Linked DNA regions of Homo sapiens: region 2 is linked to region 1. A link means that fine-mapping ties the variant in region 1 to the expression of a gene that starts in the linked region. Tissue or cell type: whole blood. Region 1 holds a variant in brackets; the other region holds the start of a gene. All regions are shown on one strand. Distances are between the middles of the regions.

What was found. PIP is the estimated chance that this variant, and not a neighbour inherited with it, causes the effect.
Region 2: ATG7 starts here. The variant in region 1 is fine-mapped to the expression of ATG7 in whole blood (TOPMed, PIP above 0.99).

The regions. Positions count from the first base shown.
Region 1 is chr3:11,553,860-11,556,539 of GRCh38, reverse strand. ATG7 (autophagy related 7) reads right to left here. Exons shown (of 21, transcript NM_001349232.2): 21 at 1-1,729. The coding sequence ends at 1,697. VGLL4 (vestigial like family member 4) reads left to right here. Exons shown (of 5, transcript NM_001128219.3): 5 at 1-471. Among named protein-coding and RNA genes, the nearest start is that of VGLL4, 89 kb to the left of the region's middle. The variant G/A (reference allele first, on the strand shown) is at 1,612.
Region 2 is chr3:11,270,707-11,273,386 of GRCh38, reverse strand. ATG7 (autophagy related 7) reads right to left here and starts at 990. Exons shown (of 21, transcript NM_001349232.2): 1 at 957-990. RefSeq lists enhancers at 205-794, 943-1,072, 795-1,386, 1,343-1,392.

The DNA.
Region 1 (2,680 bases):
ATTCATAGCCACGAGTTTGTTATTGCTACAGGCTACTGAGCGTCGTAACAGGAAAACCACCCACAGCTGACCGGCTCGGTGGAGGACACTCCTGGGACAGGTCTCTTTGTCAGTGAACAAGGGCGTCACTCTGGGAGGGGTCGGCGGTGCTGGCGGCCGGGTCCCTGGTGCACTGACCTATCTGGGATAGGCAGTACCCTGGAGGGGGGCCTGGGGCAGAGGAGGCAGCAGAAAACCAAACATTTCACTGAGAAAGCCCCCTCCCTGCTCTAAGAAGGGGCTCCGTGAAGTTCTTCCCAGAGCCGCGCTGCCTGCAGTGCGCTCTGACCTTCTCTTCATGTGTGTAAATCTGTAATATACCATTCTCTGTGGCCTGTTTTTCCTGGAAGAAGAAAAAAAAAGGTTTGGCAGGCCATCTTTTTTTGTACTTAAAAGTAGCCTTAAGAACAATAATAAAGTGCTCTTAAACCACATAGTGTACGTGTGCAGTTTCAGCGCCAGGCTGGGTGGGCGGACTCGGGCCCTGCACCTGTGCCGGCTGTGTCCCCATGAAGCTCCCATGAGCTGAACGACAGCCACTGGAACTTGGACTGGCTACTTTGGGAGAAGCGAAGCCTCATTTGAAATCTACCCTACTAAATCCTACTGTTGTAAGGGTCAGCTCGACTCAATTTTCACTTTGATTCTGGGCCTAAGACAAAAGCTGAAAGAATAAAATAGCAGGAAAGACGATGCCCTCTACACGGGGGCAGGGTGGTCACAGGTACCTAGGCCATGGCCTCTCCTGGGTTGGGGCCTCACAGCTGCACACACCCAGAATAAAGAGGAAAACCAGCTCTTGCCTGAGTTACCCATGGTAGAGCCGTCTGACCCCTCCCTCGGCTGGGGCAGGAAGGCAGCCCAGGCTCGGCCTTTCTGGGCCTGGCCTGCTCATAAGGGCAGGGAGGAGCCCCATCCAGGCAGCTGCCAGGATCTGCCCCTGGGCTCTTCCCCCCAGCTCAAGGCAGCAGCAGAAACTCCTCTCCCTCAAGCAGGCAGGCAGGCACAGATGCTATGCCCACAGTGGAGGACAGGCTGGGAGGCAGAAAGCCATGTCTGAGCAGCTCACTCAGTCCTTGGTGGAAATCTGGCGTCACTGGGTCATGTGGGCCCTTTAGTCTCGTACCCAGCTCGGCTCTCCTCCTCCTCCCGCTCCACCAGGGCCAGGGTGCAGTGCGCTCACGGGGTCCCACCCTCACCCATGCCCAGGGCCCCCACAGGAGGAGCCTGCGGTGCGGTGGGCAGCACATTCCGGGGATGAGGGTGCCACCTCCCGCAGTGGCTCTGGGCAGGAGCTGGTTGCTCATTTCCCCATTTGGTCTGTGTTGGGTCACCCCCTCAGGGCCAAGGGGAAAGGATCCTGGGGGATGGCTATCAGTCACTGTGACAAGAAATAAAAACTGCATGGAGGACCAAGTCCCAGGTCAATAGCAAGGCCAAGGCCAAGGTTATTATTTAGCTCTGAACTGGTGGTATCTTGAATCCCGAGCAACGCCGAACACTGGCCACTCCTGGGCAGCAGAGGGGGGAATCCCAGACCTCGGGGTATGGAGGAGGGGCCCAGAATCACCA[G/A]GCCTGGGGTCAGCAGTCCTGCTCTGGCGATGGAGAGCTCCTCAGCAGGCGGCCGGGGAGAAGTCAGCCCCACAGCGGGGCCATCTCAGATGGTCTCATCATCGCTCATGTCCCAGATCTGCATGGAGAAGGGGAGAGGCTCAGCCGAGATGTCCCACTGCCCGGTGGGGGGCACACAGATGCTTCAAAACCGCAGCAGTCATGGCAGCTCCCACCTGCAGAACCACTCCCTTGTTTCTGAGGGACTGTCACCCCATTTCTGTACAAGGAAACCAAATCTCAGACTTGCCAAGGCGTCACTAGTGTGTGAACCACCTGGTGGAACCAACAGGGGAGGGCTGGGATTTGCACTGGGGAATGTGCCTCTGCTCACCTCCTGCATGTCCACCTCGGGGGACCGTCCCTGACCCAGCCAGCCTCTGCTCATCCTGGCTTCTGCAGCACTCACCCCCACCCCAAGCCAGCTTGTTCTCCTTGTGGTCCACCTGCCCTCTGGAAGGCAAGCTCCCTGAGGGCAGGAATTCTGGCATGGGCACGTGCTGCCTTGGGAGGCTGCACCCTGGGCACCTGCTCCATGTTCCCTCTAACTGTAGTCCAGCTGCCCACACTCCCAACTCACACTAGAGAGCTGGCTCAAGAGCAAGCCCTCCCCACCAGCCAGGGTGGAGGTGGCCTGGAGCAAAGACAGTGGAGACAGCCAGATCCTGCCACAGTCCCTCAATGCGTGTCCTCCGAGTCTGAGCCTCGCAGTGAACCTGGGGAGCAGGAGGCCCCAACGTGGCTGTGAGGAGAACTGAGGGACCCAGCAAGAGCCACCCTGGCCGACACCCCCATGGGCCCAGGCCCATTCATTCCCTGCAGTCCTTGGTGTCAGCCCCCAGGGAGAGAGCCCAAGGCCAGCACAGCAGGTCCCAGGGCCCCTGGCACCCAGGGCTCCCTGGAGGGCCAGTCCCTGAACCTACGCCTTCAGACTTCCAAATTCCTAGAATTGGTTGCAAAAGGCCACCTCAGTGCTAGCAGAGCTGAGAGAAGGAACAGCATGTTTACACGAGGCTGGCCCGGGGAGATG
Region 2 (2,680 bases), 280 kb after region 1:
CAACCTAAGAGTCAGAACTGGGGGAGGACCAAACAGGAGCAACCAGAAGTAGAAAGCTTTCTGTCACTGAAGAAATCTGGCCAGTGGGCAGAGGTGTCAGAGAAAAAAATCTAAGTAGTCAATGAAAAAGGGAGTCTGGGATCCAGAGGTCCCAAACTGACAGCCACAGATATGACTGGTTACAGTTGAACAGGGTTTTGTAAAAACTGAGTTGCCAATGTTTTTAAACGCCAGAATTACTTGCCAATTTTTAAAAAATGGCATCAGTCGCCAGTGTTTAAAAATCAGGAAACTGCACGCACGTGCACACACACACGGTTTGGCTTGTACTTCTCCAACATCATGTACGTTAGTACTGTACTTATAAAATTAGAAGTTTGACTCTATTTCTGACAAATGTTCTAACACCTATATTTACCTTACCGGATTGATTCTTATTGTGCATTAGTTTCTAACCCTGTAACCAAGGAATCGAGAATCTTCTTTCTCAGAAAGTAAACTTATTTAACCTCCTCACTTAAACAAATGGCGGATTATCATTCCCATTTTGCAGATGGAAAAGCAGCTTAGATGGGGAAGGAACGTGCCAGAGACAGCAAATCCAGACACAGCCAGGCTGGGAATCCAAATGTCCCATCTCCCGTGTTCCAACACTGAAGATTCTGAGCACTGCCTACCAAGAGGACAGGAGGGGCTGACTTAGGAAATCAGCACGAGCTTCCAAGTCAGAAGACCCCGGACTGAACCAGTCTGAGGGGACGCGGCTACAGACGAAGGGCGCCAGCCGGAATCAGTGAGTCCCTGGAGGAGGAAGGACCACCCAGAAACTGGCAGAGGAGGATCCTGAGACTTGCTGTGACCCTCGCCCTCCCTGGCGAGCTCGCCCCTTGACTCCAGGCCTCCAAAACCGGCCCAGCAAGACCCCACTACACCCTCGCCCGCCGCGGCTCACTTACCGCCGCTCAACTTCCGGCAACCACAGCTCTCTCTGAGGCGCGCGCCCCGATGACGCAACGCGGTCCTGCCCGCGCTTGCCACTGGGAAGCGGCGCGCGTGCGCAAAGGAGCAGAGGCATGCCGGGGAAATGCGCCCCTAGCACCGAGCTAAGTGGGAGGAACTTGAGTCGTGAGGAGGGCGGGGCATCAGGGGGCGGTGACGCCCCCGGGGGAAGCGATGGAGAGCGTCTCCCTTACCAGATGTCGGAATGTCTACATTCCCTTCAGGCTTTTAAGAAAGTGCCCACGTTCTCTCTTTTGATTTCAGAGGATGACAGGAATGATCACCATGGTCATTCTCCAGGAGAGGCGGCATCAAACGCAGCACAGGGGCCATCAGGGTGGCAGGTGTGGAGAGCCAGGAGATGAGAATTTTAGTAGGAAAAGGCCAGTGAACGTCGACAGTGACCAACCTGCCTTTTCTAAACCAGCCATCATTCTCACAGCTCCTCACTGTCAGTGAGATAAAGTTATTCCCTCTCAATACTTGGTTAGATACTCTGCGCGTGCAAAGCACTGGACAGGTGTTGAAGATACAGCAGTGATTATGACAAGTTTCTCTGTCTGGCCTGTAAGGCCTTTCACAAATTAACTCTGATATACCACTCTAGACTCATAACAACAAGAGCGATGACTGCTATTAATTAACTAGCCACCATGTTTTCAGGGTTTTACATCTCTAATCCTCACAAGAGTCCTGAAACATATCCCCAAGTTATATATGAAAGAACAGAATCTAAGAAAAGTTAGGTGGCTTGCTGAAAGTTAAAGGGCTTTTGGGCCAGGAACGTAATCTGAAGTTTGTTTGATTCTGGCAAATAAGAAAACAAATCCAGACTAATAAGGATACTTATTAGAAAGGATTACTGCAGGCCCGGCGCGGTGGCTCACGCCTGTAATCACAGCACTTTGGGAGGCCGAGGCGGGCGGATCACGAGGTCAGGAGATCGAGACCATCCCGGCTAAAACGGTGAAACCCCGTCTCTACTAAAAATACAAAAAAATTAGCCGGGCGTGGTGGCGGGCGCCTGTAGTCCCAGCTACTTGGGAGGCTGAGGCAGGAGAATGGCGTGAACCCGGGAGGCGGAGCTTGCAGTGAGCCGAGATCCCACCACTGCACTCCAGCCTGGGCGACAGAGCGAGACTCCGTCTCAAAAAAAAAAAAAAAGAAAGGATTACTGCAAGAAGTGAGAGAGGTGGGAGAGAAGGAACCGTGCAATAGCAGAGGGAGACTATTGCAATAGTGAGATCACTCTGACCAAAACATCCGCAGATGTTTCAATGGTTAGGGAAAAAGAGGGTTCCCCCACCCCCCACCCTCCCCAAAGGCAGGTAAACAAGGCTGGAAACAACCGAATATGGGAAGTGGGATGAAGGGGTGGCTTGATCAGATAGTAGATTAGAGAATGTTTTATCTTGAGGCCAACCTATTCTCAGTAGGGGTTGTGTGTGTCAGTCTCTGAGCCCAAGCTAAGCCATCATATCCCCAGTGACCTGCACGTATACATCCAGATGGCTTGCAGCAACTGAAGATCCGCAGAAGTGAAAATAGCCTTAACTGATGACATTCCACCATTGTGATTTGTTTCTGCCCCACCCTAACTGATCAATGTACTTTGTAATCTCCCCCACCCTTAAGAAGGTTCTTTTATAGTCTCCCCCACCCTTAAGAAGTTTCTTTGTAA